2 separate regions of the Homo sapiens genome follow, and region 1 is linked to region 2. Evidence: fine-mapped expression QTL. A gene starts in region 2. The other region holds a variant in brackets. All regions are shown on one strand. Distances are between the middles of the regions.

The links. PIP is the estimated chance that this variant, and not a neighbour inherited with it, causes the effect.
Region 1: its variant is the best candidate, but not a certain one, in a credible set for the expression of PROZ in liver (GTEx, PIP 0.80).

Annotation. Positions count from the first base shown.
Region 1 is chr13:113,202,646-113,207,035 of GRCh38, reverse strand. All of the region lies in intron 1 of PCID2 (PCI domain containing 2), which reads left to right. Among named protein-coding and RNA genes, the nearest start is that of PCID2, 3.8 kb to the left of the region's middle. The variant G/A (reference allele first, on the strand shown) is at 2,561.
Region 2 is chr13:113,156,177-113,160,566 of GRCh38, reverse strand. PROZ (protein Z, vitamin K dependent plasma glycoprotein) reads right to left here and starts at 1,919. Exons shown (of 8, transcript NM_003891.3): 1 at 1,837-1,919; 2 at 390-553. The coding sequence starts at 1,906. It overlaps LOC124903216 (a long non-coding RNA gene), which reads right to left. Exons shown (of 4, transcript XR_007063880.1): 4 at 3,957-4,037. RefSeq lists enhancers at 705-1,282, 1,859-2,436.

The DNA of each region.
Region 1 (4,390 bases), 46 kb before region 2:
CCAATTCAAGTCAGTTAAAGTGAGACTGATAAGCGAGCTTCTACTCTATGTGTGTAAACTGAAGTTTAAACAGACAGATTTGGGTTAAAGATACAAACCTGAGACTCCTTCGTAGTCACATGATGGGAAAGACTGAGAAGGGAAGGGGTGACCCAGGGAACAAGTAGAGAGAGTAGACAGGGGCTGGGCCCAGGATGGACTTCTATGGAGATGTGCATGCCTACATCTCCGCAAAGGGCAGTGTAGCCACTGGGGTGAGACAGCAAAAAGTCCGCTTCCTCCTAATTCTGATGGATAAAAATATTTCTGGTTGAACTGGCATGTTACCTAAGTTTTATGTATTAACAGATTCTTGAATATTTTAAGAAAATAGGTGCCTCTTCGATACAGAATGGCAACCGGTTATACATGGTAACACATGTTTGATTTGTTGTATAGGAACATAAGTGCCAATGTCACTGTATCTCTTTGGGAATAAAACCATCATTTGCACATTCATCAAAGCTAGGAAGTTGGGGGAAATCATTGACTCCTCCTTTAGTCTCAGCAAATAGTCCTTTACCTAATTGGATGTATCTCCGAAGTCTCTCAGATCCATCCCTTCTTTATCTGTTGCCACATGCTCCCCAGCCAGGACGCCCTGCTGCAGGTACTGGTTGATGGTTTCCTTTACTTTGCCCTTTCCAAGTGAGACACAGCAAAGAGACCATAGACTTTAAAGACAATAAGACTTCAGCCCAAATCCTGGCATTTTTACTAATTCTGGGACCATGACAAGTTATCTAACTTCTGTGACTCTCCATCTCTAAACAGGCTTCACATAAGTTGTGAGAATTAAAAAGACCATGAATTCACAGTAAATGCATTTACTTAGTAAATGATAGTTCTGGTATTTTATTGAAGAAGAGTTGAGCATCTGCCTCTGTTACTAAAACTTCATTGACTCTCTGTTTCCTCCAGGGAAAGTTCCAAATGCTTTAGCACATCATCTGGTCCATGTTTACCTGTTAACTTGGCATCACCAGTCTGAAGGTTTATTTCACTTATGCTGAATGCACCATTGCCCCACCGAAGTACTCATAACTTAAAATATACCATTTAACCATTTTAAAGTACACAATTAAGTACATTCACAATATTGCACAACCATCACCATTATCCAGAATTTTTTGTCACCCCAAATGGAAATGTCATAAGCATTAAGCAGTCACTCCCTGGTCCTCCCTCCCGAGCGCTTGTCAACCGCTAATGTGCTCTCTGTCTGTATGGATTTGCTGACTCTGGTGATTTCAGTATGTGGCTTTTGTGTGTCTTTCCCTTGCATCATGTTTTCAGGGTTCATCTGTGTTGGAACATGTGTCAGTGTGTCGTTCTTTTTTATGGCTAATGATATTCCATTGTATGGAGTATTTTGTTTATCCATTCATCAGTTGATGGACCACTTCAGTTGTTTCCTCTTTTTGGCTGTTGTGCTGCTGCTGTGAACATTCTTGCGCAGGTTTTGTATTCTTTTTGGCATATACCTAAGAGTGGAATTGCTGAGTCATATGGTAATTCTGTGTTTAACTTGTTAAAGAAATGCCAAAGCAGCTAGCTGCATCATTTTACATTTTCACCAGCAATGTATGAGGGTTGCAATTTCTTCACTTTCTTGTCAATGCTTGTTTTTTTCCATTCTTTTTATTATGGCCATCCTGCTGGGTGCGGAGTGGTATCTTCTTGTGGCACCCCATGATCTTTCTTGTCCCAAAGATTTTCTTCATTATGTTCCTTTTGCCAAGAACACCTCTCTTTTTTACAGGTGTAGTGAACATCTTTATTTAGGGAATCAGCTTTGAGTTAGATACTTTACTCCTTAATCTTCAGTAGTTCTTCATATTGTCTTTCAAGAGTTTATGGAATTGGAAAGTTTGACTATTCAGAAGTGACTTCAGAGGTTCATGACCTGTAATGATTTTGAATTTTTAAAAGAGTTATGAGTTCCAAGAGTAGATGGTGCCTCCTGTGGACCAGACTGGAGGGCGTGAGGGGCATGCAGCAACCACAAGGAAGTCTTCCTGGGGCCAGAGCCAGGGAGCATCCCCTGGTGAGCCAGGCCTGGGGGTGCCGCTCAGAAGGTGCTCACTTGGAGTCTGGTTGTGTGGTCCCATTGAGGGCTGAAGGCTCTGCAGCATGAGCTGTTAAGAGTTGGCCAGGTGGCTGGGCTGCTAGGGGTCCTGTGTCCACTGCGGCGCCAGTCGCACCTTTAGGGCTTGCAAGTACCGTCCGTTGCCATCCCTGCTTTTCCTCTTCACATCCCCAGTCTTCTCACAGTTTAGTCATTGAGGCAGGGGCATTGATAGGACCACCCCTGGGACACATTCATGCCTGCCAAGCAAGCTGGGGCCCTCCTTGGGCTCAAGGCCCTGTGGCACTGAGCCCTCCTCTGGTCAGGTCACCCGTGGGACACTGGGTGCAGCCCAGGTAGGTGTGGCCAAGCAGAGCCCAGGATGTGGCGACATCACCCTGCATATGTGCAGGGACCACCCTGGGAGGTCACAGGCAAAGGAGGGCTACCAGT[G/A]AGTGCCCCCAGCAGGGGTCTCCGCCTCTCCTTGGAGGGCCCCGGTGTCTGTACTCCAGGGTTTGATCCCTTCGTGACCACTGTGTCCCCAGTGTGTTTAGTCATTGAAGTATGCTTCCATTCCACAGTGCTTGCTCCAAGTCTGGGACTCTCAGCTTTCAGTCACTCATAGGTTCCTTCTGCAGAGAGCTCTGGAGGCCTTGGCAACATCAGAACATCATGCTCAAGTGTGACCTGTCACCAGAGTACTGATGTTAACCAGAACACTCCTCTTCTCAGGCTCCTGGGGCTGGGCCCAGTGCAAGGCCCTGGGTGGTGCGAGAGATCGCACAGTGCGGGGCCTGGAGTGCCTGGAACCATAAGCAGGGGTGGCTGTGGGGAACTCTTAGCTTGAACCTCCTGTTTGTGTGGAACCAAAGAGAGCACGGCTTGGCCAGCAGGCTCCAGAACCGCTTTCTAGCCAGAAGCCCCTTAGTTGAGCAAGGTTGGAGTCTGTTGGGGCTCCTGTGGCTAGGCCTGCCCACATGGCACAGGGAGGGCCACTTTGGAAGGCATATCCTCTCTGGGGCTAAACTGACTAATACTGGTTTTCTTGGGGGACTTGCAGACCAAGACCTGGGTGGGATCGGTTGTTTTGCCTTCCATCCCAGGGCCAACTACTGATGGGAGGGCAAACGGGGAAGACGCAGTGTGCCTGCCTGGCCAAGGCAGTTGCCACCCTCATCCTTGAGGGCGCTGTTCCATTGCACCTGGTCAGATGGTCTCGAGGGAGCCAGAGGAGGCCCCTTTGGAGCTGGGCACCAGTGAGTTCTTGCAGGGCGTGGGCAGGGGACACCGGAAAGCCTCCTGCAGAGGATGGGCAGATACCAGTGTTGTCTTCTTGGGGCCATCTTCAGCTTCTTGATGATGATTGGCAAATGCAGTGTTGTAAATTGCAAAATACTGATCTGTAGCATGGTGATTTTAAAGAGGAAACCTAACCCTTTCCCCTAAACAGCTGAGGATCTTAGTATCTGTCTGTCTACCTTTTAGATGAAATCCCTAAACCTGTGGCCAGGGCTATGAAGAGAAACTTAGTTTCCATAATACTTGGGCCCAAATCGTCTTGCACCCATTTGTGACTTTGAAAATGTCAGGAGCTAGGCTATGATGTGACGTTGAGCAGCAGCTTGTGACCTTGCATGGACTGGGGCAGGAGGGCTGCCTCTGAATGGCTGTAGTTTTCCTATGAAGGCAGAAAACCTGCAAGTCTTCAGATGGCTTCAGCTGAAGATAAAGTTAAGTTCCTGCTTACACCTCCAACCCAAATCCCATGGGACTCTCCCTTCTCCTGCTCTGTGCCAGTGCTGCTCTTTCTCACTGACGACTGTGGTCCCGGCGACACCGCCCTACCCACTGCACTCACAAGCAGTTCAGGATTAGGGCCCTAGTGCCACCAACAACATTCTACTCAGTGATGTTGAAATTCAGGATTTTTTTTGTTTTGTTTTTGGCAGTCTTTTTGTCCTTAGAATAAGGACAGTCAAATTCCACAAACTACTGTTTTCAAAGGTTACTCATATAGGTATGTATTTTCTATTTGTTTCAATTTTAAGGTTTGTCTTTCTATTTTATTTCTTGAATGGGGTTGTAAGTAACTTATATTTAAAGGTGTGCTCAGAAACTTTCCTTCTCTCTCTCACCTCATTCCACCCCCCTCTCTAGAAAGATAATCATTTGCATTAGATTCTGCCTTCTCCATCCTGTATTTCCTTTTGGGATGTACATGTGACACACACACAGACATAAACACACATATTTTTCTTGTTTCCCTTCATTCTTATACAAGAC
Region 2 (4,390 bases):
AGTTGAATTTTAAAGATATATACCTCTGTAGGGAGTGGGGACACTTAGTTTGGGGTAGGAGTATCTAAAATTAGGAGAATTATTCAGACTTGAAGCCTAGAAAGAAAATGTATGCTGGGTGTCTGATCAGTGTGTGGGCCTTGCCTGACCTGAAGAAATGAGTCCAGTGGGCTCTGAGCTGACTTCCAGCCCCACTCACTGCTGTAGGGAAAGGTGGATTAAGTCGATTCTCTAAATTGTTTCCTCATCTGTAAAACTGGGATTGTGTCAACCTCATCGGTAAGTAAATAGGCTAATTAATTAAGCTTAATCTCTGAGAAATGATGCTCCCTGGGCCAGCAGAAGTCTAAATAATGAGGAGGCCTGTGGTTTGTGGTGGGGGTACATACAGTGACTACTTCATTTTCAAACACTTCTCTTGCTTCTTCATAGACACAGATTTCTTCATAACATTCTTTTTCCAAGTTTCCCTCGAAGAGTTCTTCCAGAAGATAGGAGCCCGCACGCTTCCACCTCACCAGAACGTCGTTTGCTTTGGAGGCCGGGAGAAATACTACAGACGAGACAAGAAGGCAGGTGACTGGGAGCACCGAGGGCCCTGCTTTCCAGAGCTGCCTGGCTTCCTCCCCGGCCGGCCGCCAGCCCCAGCCCCGTCCGTCTCCACAGGCTCTCAGCCTGCGAGGGCCTCAGGGCCACCCCGCTACTCCCTCCCCCGAGGTAGGCAAGCACTTCATCCTCTGGGCGAATGGATCAGCCCCAGGATCAGTGCGGATACACTAAGGTTCTGCAGAGAGGCCACGGGCCTCAGTCAGGAAAGTGGAGGAGGGAGGGCTCCAACTGGGTTTTGGGTCTGAGTGCGAAGGAAGGCTGAGCTGGGGTCAAAGGTCCCCGTACTGAGAACTGGGGACCAAGAGCCATCAGCTCCTGTGCTGCCTCTGTGCGCAGCATTTAACATCTTGATAAAACACATAAAGAAGAAACTTATACATTGCAGCAGGCTCTGCGATTTCCAGGAGGAGAAGGCAAATGAGTTGACCCGCGGCAGTGGTCTCTGGAGCCTCTTCCCACCTGAGGGTCCCAAAGCATGTTCTCTCCCTCTCCGGGAGGGTCAAAGCCCAGGCCCTTCCCATCCTCCCTCCTTTTCTCTCGGTGCTGAGGGTTACAGCAGGGGGGGCTCAGCTAAGTCCGGCTACGGTAAGTGCTGGGCAGGGCAGGGCGGGGGGATCACCCTCTCAGGGTGGGAGACCATGGGGCCAGCGGGAGACCATGGGGCCAGCGGGGATGCTGGGTGTTTTGACTTGCAGCTTTCCTGGACGCCTGTGCAGGCAGAGTCAGAATGGAGTCCATGTCGTTCCTTCAGTGAAGTGGCTGGTGGTAGAAGGGTGGCAGGCAGGCAGGGTGGCTGCTCCCTGGCTATGTCTCCTGACTCAAGACTGGGCATTCCTGGCTGGCCTGGCCAAGGCTCTCTCTGCCCACATTGCAGTCTGGGCTCAGCCTGCCCCACCCCCTCCCCTCGTCCAATGCCCAACCCAGGCCTCCCCCCACTCCTCCCCCTTTCCCCCTCCCCTCTCCCCGGCCTTTCCCGGCTGAATCCCCTGCACACAGGCTTCTTTCCATTTGGGCATCTCTTGGGAGGACCCCAAGTGACACTATCATGTCCCAAATACTTGTCACCAAATGATAAAGATCCAAACAGCTTTTTCAGGGGAATTAAGACTAGTCTGGGCACTCAGGGCTCCTCTGGCTCCTGGAAAAAGCCTCATCTACAAATCCACCATGGACCGAGTCAAGAAAGACACAGCACAGGCACAACAGACAGGTAAGCCAGATGCCTACCTGAGGGCTCCACACGATGGAGGGCGAGGACCAGGACCAGGCCCTGGAGCAGTGGGACGCAGCCTGCCATTCCCACCCGGAGCGCTGGGACAGGGCTACAAACACAGCCAAAGTCCAGGCTGGGGGAGGTGCCGGCAGCAGGAGCCTCGGGGCACGACCTGTGCAGCTGTGTGCTTCCCTCCTGACGTTTTCTGTTTGAGGCCAGGCAGAGAAATGAACGGTGAAGGCTCAGAGGACCCTGGGAGATATTTAGGGAGACAGAGAACAGAAGGTAAAGGCAGCAGGTGCAAGGTGGAAGGTGGCACCCATGCCCGTGTGTGGTCAATGGAGGTGAGATAGGCCCTGGGGACACAGCACTGGGCGGGACAGACAAAGTCACATGCAGCTTACGTTCTAGGTGTGTGTGGAATACACAGAAAAGAACGAGGGAAAGAGACAGGAGGGAGTGAGGGAGGGAAAGCAGGAGGATGGAAAGAAGGAAGGGGAGAAAAGGAAGGGAGGGAGGGAGGAGGGAGAAAGCGGGGAAGGGCCAAATAGTGTCTGTCACTACAGCTCAGCACCATTGTAGCAGAGGCAGCATAGACAATCATGAATGAACACTTGGCTGTGTGCCAATAAAGCTTTATTTATAAGAGCTATTAAGGGGCCAGATTTGGCCCCAGGGTTGTCGTTTGCTGCTTTCAGATGTAGGCCCTGTGTATTAGTCCCTTCTTACACTGTTATGAAGAAATAGCCAAGACTGGGTAATTTAAGAAAAGAGGTTTAGTTGACTCCCAGTTCCACATGGCTGGGGAGGCCTCAGGAAACTTATAATTATGGCAGAAGGCACCTCTTCACAGGGTGGCAGCAGAGAGAATGACTGAAGCAGGGGAAATGCCAGATCCTTATAAAACCATCAAATCTCTTGAGACTCACTCACTATCCCAAGAATAGCATGGTGGAAACCACCCCCATGATTCAATTACCTCCCACCGGGTCCCTCCCAGGACACGTGGGGACTATGGGGATTACAATTCAAGATAAGATTTCGGTGGGGACACAGCCAAACCATATCAGCCCTTGAAGCCTGAGGTAAGAACCTGGTGTTTCATTTTCACTGTGTTGGGAAGATATTGGAGGGAACAGGAATTGACATGGAAAGATTTGTGCTCTGAAGGGATCACTGGGCTGCTGTGTGGAGAACAGAACATTCCAGAGAAGTCAAAAGGGAGGCTGCCGGCTAGTCCAGGAGGGGGTGAGGGTGCAGCCATGCAGCAGGAAGCACGTTTGCAGTCTGGATGCTTCAGGAAGGGAAAGCTGATGGGATTCATGATGAATTGTGTCGGGCAGCACGGCTCCAAGGTTTGGGCTGAGCGATTGGGAGGATGGCAGTGCGTGTGCTGAGACGGCCAAGCTCCAGGAGGGCAGAGGGAAGCGAGGTTTGGCAAATTTGAGGTGTCTGTGGGATGTCCAGGTGGAGACAGGAGTGGGCATCCGAGAAGCTGGGACTCACAGTGGAGATTCAGGTGGTAACAGATGAAATGACAGCATTGTCAGCATATAGATATTGTTCGATTGAATGACACTCAAAGGTGGCAAAACTCAATGAAAGGATTCTAAATACAATTTTGTTAAAGTGGGAACAGAAGAAAACTAAGAAGCTGACACCCTTGATTAAGAGGGCATGCCCGCAAATACACTGAAGTTGTGAAGTTTGCTTTAAAAAGCTGGGAAAAGAAAATAAAGTTTATCTTTAGTGAGTGAGTTAAAATAATTTGAAAGCCAGAAGTTGATTGTATAGGATAGCTCTTGGGTGAATTGCACCAGCCTGGCAATCTACGTGGCCTTCACTTAAGAAAAGGTGCCTTTTTTTGTGTGAAAATGTATTCCCACATGGAAATTTACATTAAAAATACTTCTGCTGGATAGTTTAAAAACCATCAATAGCTGCCTAAAAATGGAAAGGCAGACAGGGACATACACATTCGATCAATAAGTGTTAATTAAGCACATCCTATATGCCTGACATGGGTATCTGAGCTACAACCTCTTCCCTCATGGACCATTTTAGTCTGTTGGGGCTGCTGTAACAAAACACCTTAGAGTGGGTAATTTACGATAAACAGAAACGTAGTGCTCACAGTTCTGGAGGATGGGAAGTCCAAGATCAAGGCTCCAGTAGACTCAGTGTCTGGTGACGGCCCATGATTCATAGACGTGTCCTTGGATGGTGGAAGGGAGGAATGTGGGTGCTCCCTGGAGCCTCTTTTGGGAGGGCAGTCATCCATCCATGAAGGCAGAGTGCCTCCCAGAGGCCCCACCTCCTAGTACTATTGCACAGGGGGTTAGGTTTCAACGTGAGTTTTGGGGGATGGTTTGGCTCTGTGTCCCCAACCAAATCTCACCTTGAATTGTAATAATCCCCACAGGTCAAGGGCAGGACCAGGTGGAGGTGATTGAATCATGGAGGTGGTTCTTGTGATAGTGAGTGCATTCTCACAAGAGCTAATGATTTTATAAGGGGCTTCCCCCTGTGATTGACACACATTTTCTCTCTCCTGCCACCCTGTGAAGA